Homo sapiens: one gene and its partners. The protein of the gene in region 1 purifies or fractionates together with the protein of each later gene. This does not show direct contact. Each region holds a gene or a part of one and is shown on either strand. Other genes may lie near its edges. The genes, in order: ASB9, AKR1B1, ACO2, IL36G, GGCT, GM2A and A2ML1.

Evidence for each region.
Region 2: the proteins of ASB9 (region 1) and AKR1B1 purify together in Homo sapiens (affinity purification with mass spectrometry, with the first as the bait; one large-scale study listed by BioGRID). This does not show direct contact.
Region 3: the proteins of ASB9 (region 1) and ACO2 purify together in Homo sapiens (affinity purification with mass spectrometry, with the first as the bait; one large-scale study listed by BioGRID). This does not show direct contact.
Region 4: the proteins of ASB9 (region 1) and IL36G purify together in Homo sapiens (co-immunoprecipitation; one large-scale study listed by IntAct). This does not show direct contact.
Region 5: the proteins of ASB9 (region 1) and GGCT purify together in Homo sapiens (co-immunoprecipitation; one large-scale study listed by IntAct). This does not show direct contact.
Region 6: the proteins of ASB9 (region 1) and GM2A purify together in Homo sapiens (co-immunoprecipitation; one large-scale study listed by IntAct). This does not show direct contact.
Region 7: the proteins of ASB9 (region 1) and A2ML1 purify together in Homo sapiens (co-immunoprecipitation; one large-scale study listed by IntAct). This does not show direct contact.

What each region holds. Positions count from the first base shown.
Region 1 is NC_000023.11:15,267,284-15,271,570, reverse strand, and holds the start of ASB9 (ankyrin repeat and SOCS box protein 9), read left to right. Parts: upstream 1-1,487; 5' UTR 1,488-1,696; coding exon 1,697-1,790; intron 1,791-4,287. UniProt on the Homo sapiens protein: Substrate-recognition component of a cullin-5-RING E3 ubiquitin-protein ligase complex (ECS complex, also named CRL5 complex), which mediates the ubiquitination and subsequent proteasomal degradation of target proteins.
Region 2 is NC_000007.14:134,456,282-134,460,613, reverse strand, and holds the start of AKR1B1 (aldo-keto reductase family 1 member B1), read left to right. Parts: upstream 1-1,513; 5' UTR 1,514-1,551; coding exon 1,552-1,617; intron 1,618-4,332. UniProt on the Homo sapiens protein: Catalyzes the NADPH-dependent reduction of a wide variety of carbonyl-containing compounds to their corresponding alcohols.
Region 3 is NC_000022.11:41,507,096-41,510,655, reverse strand, and holds part of ACO2 (aconitate hydratase, mitochondrial precursor), read right to left. Parts: intron 2,866-3,560; coding exon 2,607-2,865; intron 1-2,606. UniProt on the Homo sapiens protein: Catalyzes the isomerization of citrate to isocitrate via cis-aconitate.
Region 4 is NC_000002.12:112,976,626-112,980,835, reverse strand, and holds the start of IL36G (interleukin-36 gamma), read right to left. Parts: upstream 2,831-4,210; 5' UTR 2,758-2,830; intron 2,217-2,757; 5' UTR 2,198-2,216; coding exon 2,143-2,197; intron 1,616-2,142; coding exon 1,511-1,615; intron 828-1,510; coding exon 688-827; intron 1-687. UniProt on the Homo sapiens protein: Cytokine that binds to and signals through the IL1RL2/IL-36R receptor which in turn activates NF-kappa-B and MAPK signaling pathways in target cells.
Region 5 is NC_000007.14:30,501,987-30,506,110, forward strand, and holds the start of GGCT (gamma-glutamylcyclotransferase), read right to left. Parts: upstream 2,844-4,124; 5' UTR 2,724-2,843; coding exon 2,583-2,723; intron 1-2,582. UniProt on the Homo sapiens protein: Catalyzes the formation of 5-oxoproline from gamma-glutamyl dipeptides and may play a significant role in glutathione homeostasis. Induces release of cytochrome c from mitochondria with resultant induction of apoptosis.
Region 6 is NC_000005.10:151,263,129-151,266,688, reverse strand, and holds part of GM2A (ganglioside GM2 activator isoform 1 precursor), read right to left. Parts: intron 1-3,560.
Region 7 is NC_000012.12:8,853,597-8,857,156, reverse strand, and holds part of A2ML1 (alpha-2-macroglobulin-like protein 1 isoform 1 precursor), read right to left. Parts: intron 3,030-3,560; coding exon 2,908-3,029; intron 2,378-2,907; coding exon 2,326-2,377; intron 1,649-2,325; coding exon 1,565-1,648; intron 1-1,564. UniProt on the Homo sapiens protein: Is able to inhibit all four classes of proteinases by a unique 'trapping' mechanism. This protein has a peptide stretch, called the 'bait region' which contains specific cleavage sites for different proteinases.

The DNA of each region.
Region 1 (4,287 bases):
CTCCTGTAATCCCAGGTACTCAGGAGGCTGAGGCAGGAGAATTGCTTGAGCTCAGGAGGTGAAAGTTGCAGTGAGCCGATATGACACCATGGCACTCGAGTCCAGGTGACAAAGTGAGACCCTGTCTCAAAAAAAAAAGAATAATATAGGTACATTTATGTGGAAAATGTAAATTGATAAATGTGCATACATGTGTATGCATATAAATGCCTTTAAAAACGTGAATTACACCCCTCAAACTGTTAATAACAGCCACCAAATGTTTTAACTGAGACTCCGTAAATCTAAAACATCTAGGCCTCATCTTTGGCATTAAGACAAATCTGCAATCACTTCACAGCCAGTCTATGCTTGAGACTTAACTCAGAGCCTTCCCCCATGGGGATGAAAAATCCTCTTCTACCTGGAAGAGAGGAATGGTGGGAGTCTAGAGGTGCCTGTCAGCCTGAAGTAGCACCCAGGGGTGTGAGGCAACTGGGTTTATCTGAAAAGACATGGACACAGTACATCCAAATTTTTTTTTTTTTGAGGTGGAGTCTCGCACTGTCGCCTGGGCTAGAGTGCAGTGGCATGATCTCGGCTCACTGCAACCTCTGCCTCCTGGGTTCAAGCGATTCTCCTGCCTCAGCATCCCGAGTAGCTGGGATTACAGGCGCCTGCCACCAGGCCCAGCTAATTTTTTTGTATTTTTAGTAGAGACGGGGTTTCACTATGTTAGTCAGGCTGGTCTCAAACTCCTGACCTCGTGATCCGCCCGCCTTGGCCTCCCAAAGTGCCGGGATTACAGGCATGAGCCACCGCGCCCGGCCCCTAATGTTTTGTATAAGCAAAAACAGCAAAACGTTAACAAAATAAATTTTAGTAATTCACAATGAAAAGATAGCAGGTCTCTTCCACATCTCAGGCCACCTAGCAATCCATTTTTCCAATTGCAACCGTTCATTATTTATTTAGAAGTTAAAATGAGTGGAGGAGGGGTGAGGTAGGACATTTAGTGAAATTCTTGCAGCTGAAAGGAACAAATGGTTCTTTCCAAAGGTACATTTTTTGTAACATATAGACACATTTCCCATAAGAAACTCCCAGCACAATTGAAAGCACATGTACAGATGGCCAGGGCGTGCTGTGCATGTTACTGTGCAAGCAATTCAGCAGGGCTGCTGCAAAACCAGCTTTCTCAGCTCTGGGTGCTCGGGCTTGTCTCCATAACAAGCTACCATGTAACAAACGGATCTCAGCAGGGTGAACAACAGTTGCAGAAAGTGAGCTGTTTCCTTCACCCCCACCCTGCTCCCTTCACTCTCAAAAGTTACAAACTGAGTTTCCTTCCTGATAAACTCCAAGGCTTCCTCACTGATTGGTCTCAGTTTGGGAAAGGACGTGACATCAGCAACTTCGCAGACTTAGGGCTGGAGGGTTCTTGTGGCCTCTGGCGGGCCTCCAGCCAGTTAGGTAAAACGTGTGTGTGTGTGTGTGTGTGTGTGTGTGTACACGAGCGCATGCCTCTCTCTGATCACAGGTAGCACTCAGATTACCCTGCCTGCTCTGTGCTTTGCTGCAGACCATTTGACCAGAACGTGTGCAGCTCAGCCAGCCACAGAACTGGAATTTTTCAGGAGCAGGGGGAGCATGGAGTTTGGACTTTGCTGAGCAACTGAAGTGGAGCGCAGAGCTTGCTCGCTTAGGAGAGAGCATCATGGATGGCAAACAAGGGGGCATGGATGGGAGCAAGCCCGCGGGGCCAAGGGACTTTCCTGGCATCAGGCTTCTTTCAAACCCATTGATGGGCGGTGAGTCATAGGGGCAGTGGAATCAGCCCTGGGGAGGTTGGCTAATGTGCTTAGGAGAGGAGGGTTGGGCAGTTTCAGTGGCTCTGTGTGAGGTGTCCATGGGGCTGTTACTGGGCAGATGTCCACAGCTCACTGGTATATATTCTTTACACAGCTGTTCAAAAATGTGTATACTTCTTTCTGCAGAATCCTACAGACAAGACAAATTCAATTGTCACAAATTATTCTCCAGTGAAAATTTCAGCTCCCAGGAATCATTCTTTGTGGGTCAAATGCATTATTTATTAAATTGGAGGTTTGAAAGTTACTTATAAATAGGAAAATTTTTAATGCTAAAACTTTTTAATTTGTAAGTCTTAGGTGTTTGGCATTTAGGTGGGGCAGGGTTTATAAAGATGTTCAAACATTGAGCACTGATTGAGTCACTTTCAAAAGAGACAAAAGAGACTTTGTTTTACTTAAAACATTGGAGAATCATCTTACAGGTATTGTTCTCATCTGTCAAGTGGTGTCTGTGCTAATGTACAGAATCCCACAAATACACACTTCGGTGAGCATTCAGCAGGTGCCTGTTGGCTGAAAGGATTCTGAAAAATGGGTTTAGGCATTTGCACACAGGTTCTTATAAATAATAGTATATTGGTTAGTAATATACTGGTTAACTCTCCAGCCCCAAGTCTGCAAACTTGCTGATGTCACGTCCTTTCCCAAACTGAGACCAATCAGTGAGGAAACCTTGGAGTTTATCGGGAAGGAAACTCAAAGTTCGTAACTTTCGGAGAGCAAAGGGAGCAGCAGGGTGAGGGTGAAGGCAACAGCTCACTTTCTGCAACTGTTGTTCACCCTGTTGAGATCCTTGGGGGCTTGTGACGGAGACAAGCCCCAGCACCCAGAGCTGGGAAAGCTGGTGTTGCAGCAGCCCTGCTGAATTGCTGTATTTATTATTTATTAATTTTTTTTTCTTTTTGAGACGGAGTCTTGCTCTGTGGCCCAGGCTGGAGTGCAGTGGCGCGATCTCGACTCACTGCAACCTCCGCCTCCCGGGTTCAGGCCTGTATATATAGGCGGGGCACGGTGGTTTACGCCTGTAATCCCAGTACTTTCGGAGGCCGAGGCGGGCAGATCACGATGTCAGGATACCATCCTGGCCAACATGATGAAATTCCGTCGCTACCTAAAATACAAAAATTAGCTGGGTGTGATGGCACGTGCCTGTAATCCCAGCTACTCGGGAGGCTGAGGCAGGAGAATCACTTGAACCCGGGAGGCGGAGGTTGCAGTGCACCTAGATCTCGCCACAGCACTCCAGCCTGGCGACAGAGTGAGACTCCGTATCAAAGAAAAAAGAAAAAAATATATACCTGGTATACTGTCCACAGCACCTGTTGATCAAAGGGGCAATAAACAGGGACCCTGAAGTCAGGGTGTTTTGTTTTGTTTTGTTTTTTTGAGACGGAGTCTCATTCTGTCGCCTGGGCTGGAGTGCAATGGCGAGATCTCCGCTCACTGCAACCTCTGCCTCCCGGGTTCAAGAGATTCTCCTGCCTCAGCCTCCCGAGTAGCTGGGATTATAAGCGCCCGCCACCACACCCGGCTAATTTTTGTATTTTTAGTAGAGACGGGGTTTCACCACGTTGGCCAGGCTGGTCTAGAACTCCTGACCTCAGGTGATCTGCCCGCCTGGGCCTCCCAAAGTGCTGGGATTACAGGTGTGAGCCACCACGCCCGGCCGTCAGTCAGGGTTTATTAATCTACTATACAGGTACCAAAAAGGTAAAAATGGAAGAAATAAAACACAAAACGTCTTCCCTTTGACTGAGTAGACTAGCCTGCTCATTCATTCATTCATTTATCCAATTTCACTTATAAAATGAGCAGAGTACTCAATGGTGAGTGGGATTTAGATCCACAAAGGCAGAACTGGATTAATCAGCAGATGTATTGAGCATGAGTTTGGAGAACTAGGAAAGCAAGAGTGGCATCAAAAATCACTTTTCACAAAGAATTTCTTTTTTTTTTTTTTTTTTTGTTTTTTTTGAAGTGGAGTTTCACTCTGTCACCCAGGCTGGAATGCAGTGGAGCAATCTCAGCTCACTGCAAACTCCACCTTCCCGTGTTCAAGCGACTTTCCTGCCTCAGCCTCCTGAGTAGCTGGGATTACAGGCGTCCGCCACCACACCCAGCTGATTTTTGTATTTTTAGTAGAGACGGGGTTTCACCATGTTAGCCAGGATGGTCTCAATCTCCTGACCTCGTGATCCGCCCGCCTTGGCCTCCCAAAGTGCTGGGATTACAGGCGTGAGCCACCACGCCCGGCCACTTTTTACAAGGAATTATATATATAATTATATATATATATATATTTTTTTTTTAGATGGAGTCTCGCTCTGTTACCAGGCTGGAGTGCAGTGGCACCATCTCGGCTCACTGCAACCTCGGCCTCCTGGGTTCAAGCAATTCTGCCTCAGGAGGGAGAGGCAGGGACTAGGTGGGACTA
Region 2 (4,332 bases), on another chromosome or scaffold:
ACAACAAAGCCTCTGATATTGAGTCCATGTCCCTAACAGACGACCCTTCTGTGTGTACCAACCTGGCCACTCAAGGTGTATCATTTTCACAAGAGATTAGCTCTTTGGATTTGGACCCAGGAGGTTCAATTGGCAGAGCAACCTCCAAGTCAAGAGGACTCTCATGGAGGAAGGAACTTGCTGTTTTACACAAAGCAAGTTCCCAGCTTTAGGCTCAAGTTCAAATTCTATTACTTGGGGACAAATGAATTTGCCCAATAGCAACAATTTTTACAAAAGTTACATGGAAAAATATCTGGGCTAGTCTGTTCTGTATAAATTTTTCCAGGAGGGAGCACTTTTAAAGAAAGCACCAAATGGAAAATCACCGGCATGGAGTTTAGAGAGACCTGGTGCTTGAGTCACTACCAGGCAGATGGAGTTCCCAATCTTGCATAATTAGGGGAAAGATCGGAGGGTGATGGAGCAGAAAGAGCAGTTGGGGTGAGGTAGAGTATCATGAAGAGAGGTTGTTGGAAAGAAACCAAAATTGTCTTCAAGGATCTTCAAGTGACTTTTCTTAGGCTATCTTGGAAAAATGTGTGTTTCTACCTGCCAATTAGGGTGATCAATTTACTATTTTGTACCTTCTAATTTGAAATACTGGAAGCTACAATATTAGAGTCAACTTTTTCTTCTGTGGTTTTCTGTCTGTTCACTTTTCTTCCTCTAGAGAGTTTTGATAAGTTACTGTACTGGAACTTACTGCTTTGATAGAGTCTCACTTTCCAAAGACTGATGAAATTTGTCTTACTGATTCTGAATGGACAGCCTTACTTTCCAAATTCTTCTGAGAGTTCTGGATCAAGCCCATCAAGGCTTTCTAACCTCAAGAACATCAAAGGATGCTGGCTTTTGGTGGAAGGCTTGCTGAACCACACCTAGTATGCACAGACACAGCTAACACCTAGAGTGGGGTGCAAAGAGAGATCTAGAAGGCTACAAAAAGTCTGGGCAAACCCATATTTTGTGAAGGTGCTTTGCAAAAGGATTGCAAGCCATTTTTCTGGCATGCACCTTTGTCTAAGAACAAAGTGCGGTAAACTATATGTGTAGTCAGTATGATTCACATAGATTAAGGACAAGGTATTCGTCAGATTCCCAAAGAGCATCAAACTGGGGTTGGACAACAAAGGCATTCTTCTGGGCTCTTAATGAAACCAAAACTTATTTCTAGTCTATGTATTTATGGGATGCCTGTTATTTTCGCTAAAGCATTCGCTTTCCCACCAGATACAGCAGCTGAGGAACTCCTTTCTGCCACGCGGGGCGCGGGCGAGCGTTGGGGGCGGAAAGAATCCGCTGCCACTAGGACCAGGCGGAAGAAGCATCCCCGCCGACCCTTGGGGAAGGCCGCCGCGGCACCCCCAGCGCAACCAATCAGAAGGCTCCTTCGCGCAGCGGCGCGCCAACCGCAGGCGCCCTTTCTGCCGACCTCACGGGCTATTTAAAGGTACGCGCCGCGGCCAAGGCCGCACCGTACTGGGCGGGGGTCTGGGGAGCGCAGCAGCCATGGCAAGCCGTCTCCTGCTCAACAACGGCGCCAAGATGCCCATCCTGGGGTTGGGTACCTGGAAGGTAGGTGCTCGTGGGGGCGCGGGCCCGGGGCTCGCCTCACACTCTCCGCGCGGCCTGTATTGGCGAGGGACCCCGAGTGACCCTGAGCAGCTCGCCCCGCGGACGCCCGGCGTGCTGGGAGCCACGCGCGGGCTTGCAGGGTCCCCAGCGGGCTGGGGTCGGCCTTGCAGAGACCGGGGGCCTTGGCTCCCCGGGTTGGCCCTGGGCGTCAGGGCAGCATCCTGCGAGTGGGGTTTGGGAGCAGCTCACGGGAGCCCCCGCCCTACCGCGGGCAACCCTTGATGGGCGGCCCACCAGTCCGCATTTTGGGTCCTAGCGGGCGCCCCAAGCGGCACAACGCGAGAGGGAGGCGGGGAAAGTGGGCTTCACAGACCGGTGGACCTCGGGCGCAGACAGGGACGTGGAGCCGTCGGCAAGGTGTGGGAGCGCAGACCCAGCCTCCTTTCCCTCGAGGCACCTGTAGCCCGGTTGCCTCACTTGTAAATAGTTGGTCTCAATCGTTTCGATTCTTGCCCTCCCTGAGGAATAAGCATCTCAAGCCGGTAGAGGGCAGAGAATTAGGTGGCGCGAGTTTGCCCGGACCCAGCTGTTAACAAGGCGCAGTGCGGAGCTCCTCGGCCAGGCGCCGCCTCGGGGTGCCCTGGGTCTGGAACTCGGGAGAAAAATCTGGGCACCCCGTAGCTAGTTGATAATTCAGGAGGCGCCAAGGTTAGCATTTTCCCTGTAAAACCTCAACACCACACAGCGTCCCCGAGAAGTGCCTAGCCGGATGAGAATGACAATAGGACATGAAACATCATAGGATATGAAAAATGATAATATGATATGAAAAACCAAAAATAATAGCCTGAGCCTGATTATCTGAAAATTGAGCAACAAAGGTGGTGGTATGGGAGCTGAGGCAAAACCTAGAATTTTTAACCTTCTAAGTATTGCATATTATATTCCACAGCCATAACCTGGGTTTCTCAGTTTCTGTTTTTGTTGTTTGCTTGTTTGTTTGTGACAGGGTCTCGTTGCCCAAGCTGGGGTGCAGTGGCACAATCATGGTTCATTGCAGCCTGGAACTCCTGGGCTCAAGTGATCCTCCTGCCTCAGCACTGCGGGTAGCTGGGACTACAGGCGCTCACCACCACACCTGGCTAATCTTTTTTCTTCCCCGCAGAGACAGTCTCCGCTTGTTGCTTAGGGTGATCTCCAATTCCTGGGCTCAAAGCGCTCCTCCCACCTCGCCTCCCAAAGCTACAGGTGTGAACCATCTGGCAGGCCCACGTCCCAGGTTTTTCTCTTAAAATTTGAATATGGGCCTGGGCGTTGGATATTTACACACAGACAAGGGAAGAAAACAACAGAAAGAACTGAGTGAACTGTGAGATGTTTGAAATAGGACAGAAGAGTTTACATGTACCCTAAAACCTGCTGTTGAAAATTAGTAAATATAAGGTAAGAAAAAGGTCATTTGCATCAGGGAGAGTGTTTCTTGGCCAGAATGATCAGGGTACGTGATTTGTTTCCTCCAAAAACTCCAGTGGTGTCTCTAAGGTTGTAATTGAATTACAACCATGACACCAAGCTAATTTCCATCTGTTGCATGTTATGCTCTTGGAATGGATGCAGAAGGATGCTTTCTTGGCAATAGCAAATACTTTCTAAGCATGATGCAACGCACAGATATATACATGTAACTGGAATAAAAATTACTTAACAGTACTTAACCTATGTAGGCTGCATTTCAATATTTTTTTCTATTCCATTTTTCCAAAAATTATTGTCATACCTCCAGAAGCTAGTTTTGTGACCCATCATTTGAAAATCACTACTCTAGGGTAAATAAGGAGTAAAAGTTTATTTTTTTTTTTTTGAGACAGGGGCTCAGTGTCACCCAGGCTGGAGTGCAGTGGCATGATCATGATTCACTGTAGCCTTAACCTCTTGGGCTCAAGTGGTCCTCATACCTCAGCCTCCCAAGTAGCTGGGACCACAGGTGTGTGCCACCACACTCGGGTAGTTTGTTTTTAATTTTTTGTAGAGACAGGTTTCCCTATGTTGTCCAGGCTGAGGAGTAAAAGTTTATGAAAGAGGGTTTCAGATTATTCACTTGAGCACTCAATGCCCCAAAAAGCTATGTATTTGTTTAAGATAACATCACATCATAACATCTGTACATTTAGGTTATGCATTCCAGTAGACAGAGTTCATTGAGAAATTGGATAATGTCTGCTTCATTCATTACTATTTCTAGCACTTCTCACAGTGCCTGGCAAATATAGGAGTAGGTATCCAAAAGTTATGTGTTGAATTCATATGAAGAAGTAAAACGACTTTAGAGATAGCTGTATGGTGAAAACGCCCACTTGTATTCCTGTGGATGAGGAGATCAGGTTGGTGTAGAATTGTACGGTGGGGGCAGCGGGGAATGGTGGGTCAAAGTAATGGTATAAGGATGGACTTGGAATCAACTTCCTTTTTTTTTTTAATGACTTAAAACCTTTCCCTGGGGCCGGGCGCGGTGGCTCACACCTGTAACCCCAGCACTTTGGGAGGCAGAGGCGGGCAGATCATGAGGTCAGAAGATAGAGACCGTCCTGGCTAACATGGTGAAACCCCGTCTCTACTAAAAATACAAAAAATTAGCCCGGCATCGTGGCACGCACCTGTAGTCCCAGCTACTTGGGAGGCTGAGGCAGGAAAATCGCTTGAACCCCAGATGTGGAG
Region 3 (3,560 bases), on another chromosome or scaffold:
TAGTGGACTCTACTGAGTCTCAAAGGAGGAACTAGGAAATGGGACCTGCCAGCCTCCGGCATGGGAGAGCGATGCTTCAGAGAAGGGACCTCAGCCAGTGCCCTCGGACCCTTGATGAGATACACTCAAACCACACACCCCTTCACTGAAACTCCAGACCAGTGTGTGCCCTCTGAAGGCCCACTGGGTTCCCCCAGGTAAGAGAATGGCAAAGAACGTGGGTTTCCAGAGCAGTCTCTTTCCAATTAATAATTAATACATCAGCTTTTTCATTTACAAATCGGTCACTTATGAAATTGGTATCCAGGACAGGAGGCTGTGGTCGTGTCTGGGCGCATGTGACTACACGTCTGTGTTAAGTGTGAGGAAGGGGTGTGGGAGGACCCCAGACTGGTGCCAGAGTCTCGGCCTGGACTCAGCCTGGATCCATCTCTGGTTCTGTGACCCTAGACAGGTCACTGCCTCTGAGCCCTAGCCAGAGGGACACTTTACAAATACACGTAATAATGACCACATTCTAGGCCGGGCGTGGTGGCTCACACCTATAATCCCAGCACTTTGGGAGGCCGAGGTGGGTGGATCACCTGAGGTCAGGAGTTTGAAACCAGCCTGGCCAACGTGGTGAAACCCTGTCTCTAGTAAAAATACAAAAATTAGCCAGGTATGGTGGTGGGTGCCTGTAATCCCAGCTACTCGGGAGGCTGAGGCATGAGAATCGCTTGAACCCAGGAGGCGGAGGTTGCAGTGAGCCGAGATTGCAGTGAGCCGAGATTGTGTGTCACTGCACTCCAGCCTGGGGGATAGAGCAAGACTCTGTCTCAAAAAAAAAAAAAAAAAAAAGACCATATTCTTTCTCCGCTTAAACTGTTCTAGGACTCTGAGGATGGTGACCATAGCGTTCCCACAGCCCTCGCGTTCCTGGCTGCCCCTGCCCACCTCATACCACCCGCTCTTCCAAACACAGAGAACTCCAGCAGTACAGGCCCCCTCTCACTTCCACAAAAGCATCAAGTTTCTTCCTGGCTCAGGGTCTTTGCAAATGCTGTTCTTTCTAGCATGTTCTTCCTCCAGTCAATGCAACTCATATGTTCAGTCCTCAGGTTATCTGTCACATCCTCAAAGAAGCTCTCTCTTTCCCCCAGCATCTAAATTAGACCTCTTTTTTATACTGACCAAGTCCCGCACTTTCCCTTCCTAACACATACCCAGATCTGCAGTTACCTACCTCGGCCATTGTTTAGTGTCCACACCCACAAGCAGATCCCTGAAGGCAGGGCCCCTGCCTGACTTGTTCACACTGAACCTCAGTACCTAGCCCAGTGCCTGGCACATAAAGAATGTTCAATTTGTTGAACGCATGAGGGAATGAGCTCTGAATGCTATGAGTGTGCATCTCATCTCCAGAAGATTCACTCTGAGCCCATAAAGCAAGCAGAAAGCCAGCCCCAGAAGGTAGCAGCCCTGTTGTGGGCAGCTGTCCCCAGGGCTGCAGAGGACCCACGTTCCCGGCCATGTGCAGTTCCCGGCACTGTGGGAGCTCCTGTAACATTATTACCCCCACCAGTGTTGTTGCTAATGTGGAAACCGCCGGCCGGCAGGCAGGACTGTCCTTTCAGCTGAGGGGAAAGAGCCACTGTGGAGCCAGGATACCACCAGGGGGCCAGGGTGGAAGAGAGGGTCTGAGTGAGAGCGCCGCCCCGAGTGTTTCCCATGGGGCTGGGAGGCTTTGAGCCATGCTGACCCTGGGAGCTGGAGCACTTTCAATCACATGCCCACAGGCCGCAGCCCTGCCAGCATTCAGCTCCTGCCAACGCCCCTCCCCGTGAGGGGGACCCACTCCCACTGCAGGGGCTGGAGAGTGGGGAGGCCCAGAGCTGGGAGAGAGAGGCCCGCTGTTGCCAAGAGCAGGCTGACACAAAGGTCCCACAAGCCGAGCCTGGGAGAAGGAGCAGGAACTCGATTTCATAGAAGGGTGGGGGAAAAGCCTTCAGCATGGCATACAGCCACCCCCATGTAGTTAAGCAAAACTCACAGAAGAATGGCCCCCAAAGGAGGCTCCTCAGTGACAGAGCACCAGAGTGGGAGCCAGGATCAGCATTGAGCCCTAATCGTGCCCTCATGTAGTTACAGAACTCAAGTATGATGCCACTGCCGCCTCAAATTTACAAATAGTGACCCTAGCACGCCTACCTCCCGGAGAGGGTCCTTGGAGGGTCAGAGGAGAGCGGGAGTGGGTGCAAATGGGATGCTGGCAAACTATGCTAAGATGCACCCCTCACTGCTCAGGCAGACAGGGAGGCCTGCATGGCCCCTTCCAGAGCACCTGGCAGGATCCACATCATCCTCCAACAGGACAGAAAAAGGACCTGCAGTGTGGTAAGGTCAAGGATGATTTTTTCTTTCTTTAGGCTTCCTCTGTATTTTTTAACATAATGAGCAAGTGCTATTTTTAGAAAGAGAAACAAGTAAAATCAAGTTTTAAAAGCAGACCAATCCAAAGAGGTGTGAGAATTTGGAGGCAATGCCCTGGTTTGCTCCAGTGTGAGGGTGAGGCCTCTCGCCCAGTCTTGCCCACTTGCCCACCCCCAAAGCCACCTTCTGCTCACCTTGGCCCGGCGCAGGTCTTTCTCGCCCCCAACCTGGGCTTCAATCAGATGGTCACAGTGGATGGTGGATGGCACAGCCACCTTGGACAGCCCGCTGCTGATGAACTGGAGCATGGCCATCTGGGCCGTCGCATCCTGCATGGCCACACGGTCCGGCCGCAGCCGCAGGTACGACTTGCCTCGCTCAATTTCCTGGCTGGCGGGGTCATCCAGGTGTCCATACACAATCTTCTCCGAGAGTGTCAGCGGCCGGTTCAGTCTGTGGGGAGAAGAGCAGAAGGGTGGCCTGGTGCTAGCTGCACGGCCTCCTCCCGCCCTGCCTCTCCCTCTCAGTCCATGTGGCAACCTCAACAGTGGCCAGGGACAGGGAGTCTGAACTCAGGACCTCAACGTTCCACTTGGGTGGGGACTGCTGGGTCCTGTTCACTGCACCACCTCCTCACCTCCTGCAGCACCTGGCACTTGTTAGGTGCTCCACAATTACTTGATGAGTAAGTGAATGACAACATCACAAGAGGGCAGCGCTGGTTCTTTTCAAAGGATCCTGGCTTTCCCAGCATCGTAATTCCTACTAAGTCCCCGCAACATGCATATCTCATCATTCCTGCCATTTAACAACAACAACAACCAAGAAAGCCATTTAACAACAACCAAGAAACAGGCTCAGGAGAGTGACCAAGTTCACAGCTAGATTTCGCTACTTCCCTCTGTGCCCTCAGCCCCACTAAGGCACAGGGAATCAGGACCAGCATCCCCTTCACCTGTCCACCCTGTCCGCCATCTACAACCCTCCACACCTCAGGCCTGGGATGCCTGGCTACCCAACTATGACACTAAGACTTTGCCCATTAGCTCCAGACATAGACAGGAGTATCTGTCAGTTTTCAAGAACAGAGACCGGGTCACTGCCACTGGCCTCTCACAGCTCCTCCTCCTCCTAGACCCCATTTCCCC
Region 4 (4,210 bases), on another chromosome or scaffold:
ATTTTTATGTCCTCTTCTCCCTTTCCATCTTTCAGCATAGATTTAACTCCTTTAAGCCAGACATCTGTTGGGACCTGGCCCTCAATCATTGGTTACCAGTATGTCAGGCACTCTGGACTTTCCAGTGATGCCACTGAGATGGCACCTGTCAAAAGAGCAGTGGTTCTGTTTCTAGATCGTGGATCTTCAGATAAATTCTACCATTTTCATTTCACTTCCTGAAAGTCAGGGTTGGCTTGTGAAAAGTTTAAACCACATGCTAAATGTGAAATGTCAACTCTCACTCTAAACTCTCCCTGTTCAGAGCATCAGATGAAGACTTCATTGAGTTTTATAGTGGCTTTCTGATTTTTGGTAGTCCTTTGAACAAGGGAGTTTGAAGTTTGCTGCATACTCTTAACAATTGTCTGCCCATATCCTGCCTGAAATACCATGAATGTTTATGGAAAGTATCTTTAATAAAGCTGGATGCAGTTTGGCTTGGAAAAAAAAAAAGCAAAACAAGGACCTTAACTACTGACAGCCAGAATAAAAAGAAAAGTGTATTGCATGCACATAACTTAAAAGAGGCTGGGAATAAATATGCTTAGGAAGATGAGACTATTTCTTTTTTAATTCTAAAATTAGGTATTCAACCAAACACTTCTAAAAGGAAAGGCTTTTTAAATATTTTTCTTAGCTACTCACTTTTAGCTGCAATGTGGGCTGTTCTCCAACCTTCTCACAATACAAACACATTTCTGGATTCTGGATTCCCAAATAAATGGGATCCCCTCTGCCTTGCTCAAGAGCCTCTGGATACTTGCATGTGATAACAGCAACAGTGACTGTAAAGATAAGAGGAGAGATGGTATCAGTTTCCTTTTGAAGTCAGAAAGATTATTTGATTTAGCAGGGCAGTATCCTCAAGTGGATCTGGAAGAGAGCTGAAGAGTGTAATCCCAACTAGACCCACCAAATGGCCAACCCCCATATTCATTCATTCATTCATTCATTCATACCATGTGCCAATCACTGCCCTAGTAAATGAGCAAACACAGAGAGCTAAGCAGACAACAGAGTATGCTCTTGAGATTCTCACGCCTCTGCTTGAGCACATGGAGATGGGGAGCTCCTACATCAAGCAGCCCCTCTGATTCTTGGAGAGCTTGGTCCCTTTTGCAAGTTTTTCCCAATGTGATGCTGAAACCTGCCTTTCTGTGGTATTCACCCATTTAGTCATTTTAGGACACCCTGAAGTCATGCAGAACAAGCTACTAGTCTTCCATAAGACAGGGCTTCAGATGACTGACAGCAGCTTTCCTATTCCCTTGGAGGCTCCTCCACCATCTCTGGCTTCTTCATCTTAGTGGAACCCAAAGTTCTCCCTGACTTCTCTTCCCAATTAGGTGTGAAATTCTCCCCACTCCTGGTGGGCCCCATTGTAAAGTCACACTTTTACAAAAGGCTGATGCCAGCTTCCCAGCCACAGCAGTGCAAACAGTGGGGAAGGCACAGGGTGACCACTCACCTGGGGTCACACTGTCACTTCGTGGAACTGCCACAAGGTTCTGACCCTGAAGGGTCCACACTTGCTGATTCAAATCATTAATAGTCCCAGTAATAGGTTTACACACTGATTTTGGGATAGAGAAAAAAATGAAGAAATATTATAATCAAGGCTGCTTTACTAGACCCAGGAGAAAAGTATCTAACCCAGGCCATTTTGTAAGGAAGGTGTGGGGTTTGCATCCCCAAACTGACAGCACTCACATCACCCATCAGCCTAGCCTTTCTTTCTAGTGAAGTTGTGAGCTCTGGTGAGGAAGGCAAGGGCTACCAAGGGAAGTCACTGGTTTAAGAGGGCAAACTATCAAGACAGAGGGCAATGAGCAGTCTCACAGAACCTGTGTGCCAAGGCCCAGCTACCCTCTTTTGTGCCTACTCTGTGCTTGGCCCCGGTGCTGGGGACTGGAGCTGGATCAGTGACTAAGCAATAGCTCCCACCCTCCAGAAGCCCAGGGCCCAGTGGTAGGTGGGCAGCACCAGGTGGGAAGGGCAGTGTACAGAGAGGAGCAGAGAAGGCTGGGGCTTCCACAGGAGATAGCGTGAGTGCAGAGGGCCTAAGCCTCCAGAGCCCCATCCCAACAGCATTTGATTCACTTGATTGATAGACGGCCCTTCCTCCACCATCAGCGTCTCCTGGAGTGCCTCTCATAGTGTGGTTGTCTCAGCACCTGTGAAAGCAGACATAGAACAGATGAACCACAAGAGATGTTTCCAAGACCTTCCAGGACACTAGCTCCACAGGCCCTCATTCTAGACAGGGAGCTGGGAAACCTGGCCTGACACGAAGCTCTGGGCAGAAGTTCTGAGCCACATCTGGGACGAAACTTGAAGGAAGCATCAGCAAAGGGAGAACAGGTAGAATTTTCCTCCACCTGGAGATCCAGATAGTATGGTAGTGTCTCCCCTAGGAGTTCGAAGGCCAGGCATAAAATTTGACCTTAAATAACCCACAGGCACCTGATGCCCTGACTCCTCTTCTCTGAAGCCTCCACCCCTTCATCGGCATTGTTTTTGCCTAGGAGCAGGGGAGGGTCCCATGCCAGGGCCACTCTGCCAGGATCCCAGCAACTCCCCAGTAAGAAGCAGCCACACATAGGACAAAGCACAGAGCCAGCCTGATGTGGCCCTTCCCTTCATTAAGCCCAAAGCACAGATGAGAGGAAAGGCTCCAGAGGGAGGGAGAAGAGGTTTTCCAGCTATTGACTATACCTGGCAAGAAAGGGTCTTTATCTACAGTCCAGGGGACTGAATCGTGGCTCCAGCAGCTTCCAAGGTCAGTGATGGGTTCTAATGGAGCCTGGATCATTTATCTGGATGAGCAGAGAAGGAGGCTCCAGCTTCCTGGGTGGGGCATGAGAAACGTATGACATGAAAGAAAACCAGCTCCTCCTACCAGAAGATCCTGTGAGGCTCGGAGGAAGAAATCACAGAATTAGCACAAGTATCACCTGTCCGGGCTCGCTGAGAAATAAGTGTTGAGCCAATCCGCACAAAATCAACCACAAGGAAATGAGGTTGATGACAGATCCTAGGTTTCTCATAAAGGGGAAACTAAGGGAATTTCCCAGAGTTCAGCTCTCCTGTCATGTCATTCTAGAGCTAGAACTGGAAATGCCAGGCACTCTCATGTCAGGGACTCCATCTCCTGGGACTGGGAGCCTTGCCCTCTGCAGTCAGGCTAAAGGCATCCTGTAAGAGCAAAATTAGCCACACGTCTCAGGCAAGGTCCCTGTGGCATTTCTCAACTACCCCACCTAAGGCCACACCTGAATGGAAAGCCAGGCAGTAGAGCTCCCCTACCTAACACTCTTTCAGCTCCATCCACATGGGGAGCCACAGGGACTATGCAGACTGGTCTTTTAACTGAGGCAATCCTAGTTTCAGGTACCCTCAAAATGCAGTGGACTCCAGAACTGCCTAAGGAAGTAAAGAGGTGGGCAGCGATTTCTCCCAAATCTGAGCCCCAGATGCCAGCTTATCCCCCACCCTCTGCCCTAGGTTCCTGATCAGTGGTAATAGTTATTTTTATATCTTGTTTATACACCCCATCCTATCTGCTGTAGCCAAGCCTAAAAATTTACTGAGGTATAAGTTAACTACTAGAGTGAAGTGAGTTTTAGGAGACAGACTTGAAGCACTAACAGCTTCAGGTTTACCCATCTATAAGGAAGAAAAGCACAAAGAATGAGACAGAACCTTCCAGATAAGCTCATCCATGAGCCCCTCTTCCCAGCCCTGCAAAGAGTCTCCTGACTCAACGTCTCTTACTTTTCACCCTAATCTCCTTTCTGGCCTTGGAAGAACACAGTCCTTTCCTGCCATGGCCCCAATTCTATCACTTTTGGCTTCCAGTGTTTCTGTGACCCTAGGAAAGAGTGTGGTAATGCCAGGTGCACTTTTGTTCAAAGTCAACCTGAGCCAGTGCCACCTCACTTGAGTCTCCATTGCCCTGTTAAAAATCCCCTCCATTACACATCAGTCAACATAACTCCTTTCTTGGGATGTTCACCACAAAACAGCATCTAAAATTCCCATCATTTGACCCCCCAAATCCCTTAAGCCTGAATTTCCAACTGGGATCCCTCTGAAAGCAGAATCCATGCTAGGAATTGCAAACAAAGGGAATTGAATAAAAGGAACTAGATACACGTGTGTTGGAAAG
Region 5 (4,124 bases), on another chromosome or scaffold:
TTCATTCCTCATCTTGTTCCACTTCTCAGCGGAACATAGGTAACCACCTTCTCCTGATCTGCCTCTTTCCTGATTTTCAGGCTGTTCCTTGATCTCAATCCCCTTTGCCAACTCCTCCTCCATTACCTGATTTTTAAATGTTGGAGTTGCTCAAGGCTCAGTCTAGGCCATGGGTGTCCAACCCTTTGGATGCAAGAACTTTTTTGCTTACCTGTGGTGGCGGACATCACAAAAATTATGCATGGGCCTTTTTTTTGTTTTTGTTTTTGTTTTAGCTCATCAGCTATCATTAGTTTTAGTGTATTTTATGTGTGGCCCAAGACAATTTTTCTTCTTCCAGTGTGGCCCAAGGAAGCCAAAAGGTTGGACACCCATGGTCTAGGCCATTTTCTCTATTCATTTGGCAATTTGCTCAAGACATTCTCATCCCCTCCAATGGCTTCAAATATTCTGATCATCTTTAAACCCAGACCAGATCTCTCTTCTGAGCTTCAGAAGTGCTTAGAACAGGGCCTAGCACACAGTAAGTACTTAATAAATGTTTGCTAATATTATTCTGTTCACTTGACTGTTTAGCAAGCATTTCAAATTCAAAATGTTCAAACTGAACTTAAAATTTTCTCCTCCCAAGCCGGATTTTCCTCTTTTCTCTGCAAACATCACCTGCATCTACCTGGTGCCAAAAACCTGAGTCATCTTTGGTATTCTCTTCACACTCAATCACTATGCTTTAACAATGTTATCTCCAAATTAGTTCTCAAATCCATCCACCCTGCCCTGCCACCACCCTAGTTCAAGATGCCATTCATTATCTTTGGCATAAATTGCTGCAAAAACTTCTTGAACTCTCCACATTCACTCTTCCCTCCTTCAAATCTATTTTCCATGTGACCAGAATGGGCTTTTGGAGATAGAAATCTATCTTTCATGTGCTTTAGTTCTGCAGTGTGTCTTATTTGGCTTCTGTGGTCCTGGAAGATGTGGCCCTTCCACATATCTCCAGTCTTCATGCCACATTCCCCTTACTAAACTCCAGCCACACTGACTGAAAGATCCAGCTTCCTCTTTCTTCAGGTCCTTTGCAGAAGATGCTGTTCCCTGTTTTGTGTGCTCCCCACCTCTACAATCATTCAGGTCTCAACTTAAAAGTCACATTTTCAGGCAGGGCTTTCCTGAGCATCCTGGTTAGGTCAGGTACCCTGGTCATACGCCCCATTGCACTTTGCATGCCTCCTTTTTAAGATGGACCATATACCTGTAACTGAATAATCCCTTGTTTAATATCTCTTCCCCTTGCCCTGACTGTAAGCATTTGGACTCCCTTCCTACAGTTGGGAAATTCCCTACCTTACGAGTTTGGGAATAGGGAGTATCAGAGCCTGACTCCCATTTTTGAGGCTTCAAAGGCCAGAAGCTGGTTCTCTCAGTTTTGCTTAAAATCACGGCATGGGTACGTGGCCAAAACTTAGCCAATCGGGACATTCTGGGGCTTTCAATTAGAAGCTAGTGCCCAAGACAGCAGGGACTCCAGAGAGGCTGACACATTTGGGTTTCAGGAACTGCAGGGATGTACAGAGGCAGGCAGTGTCCAGGGCAGGGGGTGGTGGACAATACAGCATCCACGTTTACCAAGTTCAGCAGTGGCGTGGAAGAGGCTCCGTGGGCTGGTTCTGTTGTGTGATGCCCACTGTATTACAGTTGCTGTGCCTCCCTTTATGCTTGTCCGTTTTGTCAGCTTTGTACTCCTGCCTTCCTGGTCATTCTGTGAGCTCTCCAATAGCCTTTCAACACATTCTTTTTTTTTTTTTTTTTTTTTTTTTTGCTTAAATCAGCCAGTTTCTGTTGCTTGCAACTAAGAACTCACGATGTTAGCAGAGATCATGTTTGTCTCATTCGACGCTGTCAAAAAGGTTTTGAACATAATCTATTGCACCTCTGTCCTACAGACTGAGAGTTCCTCGAAACAGCCACTTTACTCAATCATGTTTATACCCTTAGTGTTAAGTGCCGGAAGAATATGTACTAAATGAATGAATGGACTGGGCTGAAGAGCAATGATTTACCAACACTGGTTATAGTTCATGCAGCCCCTTGACCTAACTGAACACAGCATTATTACAAATAAGACATGGTCCCAGCTTTCAGGACCTCTTAGATGAGGAGCGAAAGGCAGGTAAACGGATTTTCACAATGCCAGGTGAGAAGTGCTGTAACAAAGGTTATGTACAGAACAGAAGGCAACCAATTCCCAGACACGGGTCAGAGAAGACTCTCCAGAAGTACCAACTGTATGCAATCTGTTAAGTTAGTGGACGAGAGGCCAAATCGGTGCAGACCGAGCAGCCGGTGCAAAGGCCAGGAGGGGGAAAGCTCCAGGCAGCCCGAGAGGGCACCGTGGCCCGGGCAGGGCCGGGCAGTGGGCGCAGCGGAGGAGGTGGACCCGCCCAGGAGGCGGAAGCCGCGTCCTAGTACCCTCATCAAGAAGAACTGCATTCCTGGCCCGATCGGCCACGTGTGCCCCCGAGGAAGCGCCTTCTGGGCATCCCGGCCCCGGCGTGGGTAGCGCGGGAGGGGGCACTCACCTGCAGGCGGGCCACACAGAAGAACGCCGCCGAGGGGTTTCGGAGGTGGATCCTCTCTGTCAGCAGGTTGCTGCCGTAGGCAAAGTACAGAAAACTCTCCTCATCTGGACCCGTGACGTCCTTGCAGCCCGAGTTGGCCATATCCCACTACGCCCCTGCACTGGAGCCTGAAGCAGAGTGTAAGGAACGGCCAGAGAGCGCAACACTGGGGCCCACTACCCCGGCGCAGTGACCGCCGCGCGGCAGCCTCAGGGTTAGGGGACTGGCGGGAAGCGTGGGCCGGTCGAGTCAGGAGCGAGCGCTCTCCTGATTGGCTGCCGGTCCCCACCGACCTGAGTCGCCCCCTTTGATTGGCCATCCCCACGGCCTTCCCTCCGCCTTCCGCCGAGACTCAGAAATAGTCTGTCCTGAAGCAATCCGGCGCTGGCTCCTCATTGGACACGACCTACTGATGTCCCGCCCCTCCTTGCTCAAGGCTTCCTCTGATTGAGGGGTGGACAGGCACTCCTCACAGGCGGGTCGGGTCCCATGGACACTGGCTGAAGGTCGTGGCGCGTGACTGGTTTCTTCGCTCTGGGGTGCTTGTGTGTGGTTCTTTGGTACTTTCTGTGCCTTAGGAAGTTCTGGTCAGATCTGAGGCGAAACAGCGGCCCAGGCGACTCCATCAACGGCTCCCTCATCCGGCAGCTCGCCGGGTCCTGCCTTCCTGGCCTAGAGGAGTCGGGCAGGACGGGTCCGTTCACCCTTTCTGCTGGTTCCGGCACCCCCAGCACTGGTCATCAATCTGACCCCTTTCCACGGACCCGTCGCCTGCTGGAGCGGCCCCTCTGAATGCTTGGGACTCCCTTCCCTGTTACATGGAAGTTACATGCCTGGGCTTAAATCCCGACGCTGCCATTTACTAGCCAAGTAACTTTGGGCACCTCTGGTCTCCGTTTCCTCTTTTTAAAAATCGGGATCATAATATAAGTTAGGGTCACAGTAGAAACCCCTATATTGTGTTTTGGTTACCCCCTCCCACACACACACACATCCTGGGTGTATTTTTTAAAACCTATATTGTTAACTTTTGAATGAACATAAGGGCATAGGAACATTGTCTATCCTTGACACCCAGCTATTAATCTCTAAATACCACCCCCCACTAAAAGGTACCAAGTGATCCTTCGAGAAATGACTGATGCCAGGTCAGGAGCTAGGAGTGAATGAGGACAACTTGGAACATCTTGTGTCAGAAGCTCAGGACGCCTCTCAAGACGAACGAGGTCCTTCTAAAAGGACATGGGAACCAGCCTGAAGTTGCCCACTGGCCAAAATTAGAACAATTTGAGAATCAAAAATAACAATGACTGCAAACTGAAAAATGATTGGAAACTTTAAACATAAAAAAGCCATTCCCCCCAAAGAGTAATCCAAATTAAAAAAAAAACTATAACTTCATTTGCCACACTATTGGTGGTGACTATTACACCAACTTTACTCTGCAAAGTGATAATTTAAGAAAACAAACAGGTATTCCGCCTTTCTAGTAGCAGCTGTATT
Region 6 (3,560 bases), on another chromosome or scaffold:
GTGTAAATTCCAGGGCAAACATACCAGCTCTTCTGTCTTCAAAAAAGCAGCAATATATTTTAATCATAGAATTTTTAACTGGATGAGATCTTAGAGATAGTCTGTTCTAGGAATGGCAACATTGTGGCCCATGTGTGAGTATAGTGTATTATTGTGCCCATGGCAGACATTAATAATCAAATGTGAATTTTCCCCCTACACTGAACTATACATAGACTTAGAATTCTTTTTTTTTTTTTTTGTATCATGGCTCACTGCACTCACTGCAGCCTCAAACTCCTGGGCTCAGACGATCCTCCTGCCTCAGCCTCCCATGTAGGTGGGAAACACAGACAGGCACATGCCACCACACCCAGCTAATTTTGTATTTTTTGTAGAGATGGGGTCTCACTTTGTTGCCCAGGCTGGTCTGGAACTCCTGGCCTCAAGCAATCCTTCCACCTCCACCTCCCAAAGTGCTGGGATTACAGGCGTGAGCCATCATGCTCAGTCCATAGTCTTAGAATTCTTTAGGTAGTCACTACCCATTGATTGGCTCTAACACTTGCATTGAAATGCACTTGTCATCTAACTGCTAATTGGTTAACTGTGGCATTGTTTCCTGGGCTTTCCTTCTGAGCCCAGTCGTGGCCCCAAAATCCTTTTCTGCATAGGACTTCAGGTAGTTACTACCAACTGATGAGCTGGTTACCAAAATGAACCCAACTGGCTGCTCTTGGGTCACATTTTCTCCGTACAGCCACAGAAGACAGAATTAAGAACAATAGGAATGTATAGAAAGATCACCTTGAGACTGGTATAAAATCATAGCTAGGTTACAACAGATGGAGCTGCCTCAAGGAGTACGGGCTCCCTGACTCAGCCGGGAAAGCTACAAAAGACTCTTGTGCCTGGAGTAGGGCTGGGTGAGAAGCTCTAGAACACACTTCACACCTCCATACTGTCATGACTTTGCTCCCGTTTTGGAGGCTGAAGCTGACCAGGAGGAAGTGGCCCAAATTTCATGGTGGACATCCCAGTTGTGCCGGGCACGCGCTGAACAGTCACCATGTGTTAGTTGCCTCTAGTGCCAAATGAGTTGGCTTTAGAACCATGTCCATCACCCACCAAAGGTATCAAGGGAAAACTCTCAGGAAAGAGCACCAGGAAATTAGCTTTCTCAAATATCTGATTCCTTGTGCGTGTTATGGCAGGAAATCACATTTTTAGGATCCCTTTCAGCTCTGACATTCTAGCATTCTAGGAATCCCAGCCTCTAGGCTCACTTTATTTGGGGCTCTGTTTCTAAGAGATTAAATCCTGGATGGGCACTTATGTCCTAAGAGGCTGCTGGGCTCAGGCTGGTTCCCAGGCCACGGACTCAAGTCTTCCAGATGCCCCAGATGTCGAGATATTAGCTGCCTTCCTCCAGGCCCAGAAAGAACAAAGAAGTTAGCACATCCTGTGGTCTGAGTGGACAAATTCTAATTGCTCCTCTCACTGGCCTCATCTGCTCCTAAGACATACCCATTATCTCCACCACTGGCCACACAGCACCCTCTCAGCCCTCCTCTCTCTCATCAAACCTGCTTCTACCCCGCTGCCTAGGAAAAGTCAGAGGGCCTAGGTTGGAATGCTAGTTCTGCCACTTCCTAGTTTTATTGTGCCCTTGGGTGAGTTACTTAATCTCTCTCAGTGGCCATTCCCTCACCTTCTTTTTTTTTTTTTGAGACAGAGTCTCACTCTGTCACCTAGGCTGGAGTATAGTGGTGTGATTTTGGCTCACTACAAACTCTGCTTCCTGCGTTCAAGCGATTCTCCTGTCTTAGCCTCCTGAGTAGCTGAGATTACAGGCATGAGCTACCACGCCTGGCTAATGTTTTTGTATTTTTAGTAGAGATGGGGTTTCACCATGTTGGTCAGGCTGGTCTCAAACTCCTGACTTCAAATGATCCACCCGCCTCGGCCTCCCAAGGTCCTGGGATTACAGGCATGAAGCACTGTATCCAGCCTCGCCTCATCTTCAAAAGTGGGATATTTTAGAGTGCCTACCTCTCTCACAGGTCCCATTGAGAGGGAAATACCAGCACTTTGCACAGTGCCTGAAATCAAAAGCTTCCTCCTCCATGACTTCTGCCCTGCCTTTTTCCTTAGCCAATACTCTCTCCTTGTGTCGCCAATACCCTAATGAAAATGTTTGAGCCAGTTATGCCCTGAGTGAGAACACACAGTGGAGGAGGCCAGTAGGGGGACAAGTCCTGCCAGGGCTCCTCCCACCAGGCTGGAACCTGTAGGGCTGCATCTACCAGAAGAGGTAGTGGCTCCCTCATCTCTACTCCTGCCCCCAGCACAGGACCAGCACGACACAAGAAGTGTACTGAACTGAAGTCAACAGAGGGTTCTAAGGCAGCAGCCACACCTACCATTTGGAAATTACAAATGATGGCTCATTTCTTATTCTCAATCTATTTGCTACTATGACTCAGAAAAGGAAGCAGGGTGGAGTAATGAGCCCAGGCATGTATATGACTTTGGGTGCTGGGGGAGCCAAGTTACCAGGCCTGAAAGGCTGGAATAAGTACATATGACAAATACAGTGACAATTTACAGTTCTTGAGGATGGGAAAACCAGGGTCCCACAGGCTGGAACTTGAGGGAGGGCTGGGCATTGGGAGTTATTAACTATGCCAGATCCCATGGAGCAAGTCAAAAGAGAAAAGGGAGCTCCTGAGCAGGCCCCAGTCTTACCCACGGCCATGGAATCCGGGACATTTAACTTTTAAAAATTGCAGCTGGAGTCAAATCCAGCCAGGTCCCAGATTTGACTTTTGATTAAAGAAATTTCACTACAGCAAGATCAGAGAAAGAGAGGATGGCAGTTGCTTTCTTGGGTTTGGGCAGTCACTCTCCTCTGGGCCTCAGTGTAACAAGGGGTTGAAGCCCCATGGACCCCAAGAGTGCTCCAGGCTCATCCAGAGCTTAGTTCTGGGCAGCTCTCATAAGCAGGTCTGCTGGGCAAGGGGAGAGTTCTGGAACTGAATCTGCAGCACTCCTCTCCCCTCCCCTGCAAATACACCAAGCACCAAGTCTACCTCCCTGCCAGTAAAAGCTCAGGAACCAAACCCCAAGATAAACATACCAGCCTTGTCCATGCTAACAACTAGCTTTGTGACCTGGGTCAAGTTGCAACCTTTCCTGAGACCCTTTGTCCCTCATCGGCTCTTCTCCCTAGCAAGTGGTCAGAAGAGCTTTCATCTAATAGTTGATATGCACATATCCTGAAAAAAGAACTGAACCAAATAAATAAATAAATATATATATATATACGAGAAATATTGGGAGCCGGGCCTGGTGGCTCACGCCTGTAATCCCAGCACTTTGGGAGGCCAAGGTGGGCAGATCACCTGAGGTCAGGAGTTTGAGACCAGCCTGGCCAATGTGACAAAACCCCATCTCTACTAAAAAAGTGCACGCCTATAATCCCAGCTACTCTGGAGGCTGACGCAGGAGAATCCCTTGAAACCGGGAGGCAGAGGTTGCAATGAGCCATGATCGCGCGACTACACTCCAGTCTAGGCAAC
Region 7 (3,560 bases), on another chromosome or scaffold:
CCAAAAGGAGAGAGAGAAGGTAGGGGTACAGAGAAGAAGGGACCCTCTAAGAGTTATCATCATTCACTGAACAAACACGTATTAGCTATCATTTAATAAGTACCTACTATGGGCCGGGCGTGGTGGCTCACGCCTGTAATTCCAGCAGTATGGGAGGCCGAGGAGGGTGGATCACCTGAGGTCAGGAGTTCGAGACCAGCCTGACCAACATGGACAAACCCTGTCTCTACTAAAAATACAAAAAAAAAAAAAAAAAAAGTACCTACTGTGTGTCCTGGGAAGACCACAGTAAATCAAACTCGGTCTCTACCCTCAAAAAAACTCACAGAGGAGCAAACCATTACAACACATTACAATTTTTATTCATTATAAACAATTTTAATACAGTACTACAATGTCATACTGGATATGTACGAGGTGCTAGGGGACACGGAGAGGCACATAAGCTATCTAAGAGAGTTCAGGGCTTTTAAGAAGACATGTCACTGAGCTGATGAGTGATGTGACAAAACTTATAACACTTAGGATCAATCTCTTAAGCTCCTCTACCACTGCATGTACGTTCCTCACCCTCCAAATCACCAAGTTTCTCTAAAACACAGTTCTGACACTCTTTTCCAAGTTGTCACTGACCCCTTCATATACTTCCCAAGCCAGTGAACCTGACATAAGTGACTCATTAACATCTGCATTGTAGCCAACAAGCTCAATTCAATCTATAAATGTGTCCTGAATGTCAACTATGTTGCAGGAACTGTACTAGGAACACAAAAGAAAAAGATGTGGCCCTTCCTCTTCAGGAGCCCCCAACACAGTGTGGAAGACAGATATAGACAGTGAACTCTAATACAATAAGATAAGTGCTATGTCAGACTTACGAATAAAATAGACAAAACAGAGACACTGTGACTGCAAAGGATCTCAATAGAGGGTGAGGGAGTAAAGAAAGAGCCTAACATTCATAGGGCTCCTACTACATGCTAGATATTGTGCTGGGGACTTTATATTGCATTTAATCTTTACACCAGTCTGAGAGGTAGGTTATTATCACTGTTTTACAGAAGAGGAAAGAAGGCCCAGAACTGTTCACTAACTTGTTCAGGGTCACATGGCTATTAAATGACAGGTTAGATATGATTTCTACGTTCATGCTTTTCAACCCACTTCCTCCCTTGCCCCAAACAGTAAGTGTGCTGCCTATTGTAAATATGGTTGTATCTTCCCTAAACTATACCCAAATTCCTCAGTTTTGAAAATGGTTGCTGCAAATATTCTGTTTTCCCTTCACCCAATTTATAGACTGTCTAAACCTAAAATCAAGCATCAGCGACCTTACCTTCTTCCTACCCTGACTCTCTTCCATTTTTAACTAGAGTACAAGTCTAATCCCATCTGTACTGTTGCCTACACTGTATTTCCCTCCTATATAAAATACGCTCTTTTTCCTTCATCACTTGTTATTAGTTACACTCTCCGGATAGGTCCGTATGTCCCGCCCCACTCCACACCTTTGCAGCCTCCATTCGCCTTTTCCTTTCTGAGTCAAGAATCTCTAACTGCTTACCCAGAACCGTAACATAAGCCTTGGTCGAGTCAGGAACAATGTCCACTGGGAGCTCCAGGGAGACAGATTCAGATGCCACCTTTCCTGTGAGATGCAGAAAAAAAGGTGACACAATAGAAGATGGGGAATGGCAGGGGTTCTCAAGACAAAATTTTAGAAGAACTTTCTATAATCCAGGGATTTCTGTACTCGGTGCTTTCTCTGGGATGCAGAAAGCACTGGGTACTATTCATAGTGATCTTGCTGAAAATAAATTCCACAGAGAGTCATCATCGTGCTGCACACTTTCTCTTCTTCCTCCTGCCTCCCAGTTAATCAGCCCCATGAGGAATGGCACTTCAGACTCTCCTATTCCTTCTGGTACTATGCATTCCTCCTTTTGCCTATGAAAATCTCCTGCTGCCGGGTGCAGTGGCTCACGCCTGTAATCCCAGCACTTTGGGAGGCCAAGGCAGGAGGATCACAAGGTCAGGAGTTCGAGACCAGCCTGGCCAATATGGTGAAACCCCATCTCTACTAAAAATACAAAAATTAGCCAGGCATGGTGGCATGTACCTGTAGTCCCAGCTACTCAGGAGACTAAGGCAGTAGAATCACTTGAACCCGGGAGGCAGAGGTTGCAATGAGCTGAAATCGTGCCACTGCAATCCAGCCTGGACGACGGAGCGAGACTCCGTCTCAAAAAAAAAAAAAAAATGAAAAGAAAATCTCCTGCCCTCTAAGGGAATTCTCACCACCAATCCTGCTCTGAGTCCACCCACCTTTTGGGCACAGCAATGAGCTGTGTGTCTTCTCCACCAGGACTCCCTCAGGCTGCGATGAAGAGAGACACAGATAAAAACAACAAAGATGAACATCAGGAGGGATGGCACTAAAGGAAAGGGAAGGGAGGCCCCTCGCTGTGCCCCCAGGGCTTCCCTCAGAACTGCAGACAAGAGCTTCTCACTGAAGCTCAGAAGAACTCTGCGTCAACCCAAGGATGGGCCCTTTCTGTAAAGTTCTTTCTGGGCAAGTGCTAGAGCCAAAGACACATTTAGGCAACTTCTAAGAGGCAAGATTGACAATGGGCTTCATGATGGGACGAAAAAGGCAGCTATTGATGAAGACAGACATTTTAATTAGGTAAACTAACATTTGTTGAGTGCCTATGAGGTGCCGGGTTTTAGGTGCTTTCATAGGCCGTGGGTGTGGATTAGGCAAATGTTCAAGGGGCCAGGGAAGGAGAAAGTTGAAGCTGCCTGGTTGGACTGGAGTATGGTTGCTGTGAGAGACTAACTCACAGCAAGACGAGATGCTGAGCATCCCTCGGTTGGTTGCTGTCTCTACCTCTGAAGAAAACTCACTTTGACGAGAACTGGCTTGATGAGCGTGTCACTTCGGCCCTTTTGGGGAACAAACCCCTTCTGGCCCCCACATGGTTCATTGCTGTCCAGAATCTTTGTACTAATAGTAAAGTTAATGTGACCTGAGAGAAAGAAGAAGGGAAGCCATTAGCCCTATTGCCAGAGGTACCAGTGAGGTCCATTCCCATTTGGATCAGCATTTCTGAAACTTTAATGGGGATCTTGCAACAGTGCAAACTCTGCTGCCATAGACCTGGGGTGGGGCCCATATTCTGCATTTCTAACAAGCTCCCAGGTGATGCCAGAGAGGCTAGTCCAGTGTGGTAGGTAACCTCTAAGGGCCCTCAGAGATCCCTGCATCCTGATATTTACATCCATTGAGTGTGAGCTGGATTGAGTGACTCGCTTCTGTTAAAGAGAACAGGGTGAAAGTAATGACTCTTCTGGGATTAGGTTACAAAAAAGACTGCAGCTTCCATCTTGGGTGCACCCCTTTTCTCAAACTGCTTGCTCTGGGGAAGACAGCTGTTGTGTGATGAGGCAGCCCAGCAGAGAGATTCATGTGATGAGATACTGAGTGAGGCCCCTAGCCAAAAGCTGAGGTCAAGAACTGTGTCCTTCAGTCTAGCAGCCTGTAAGGATCAGAGACTTTG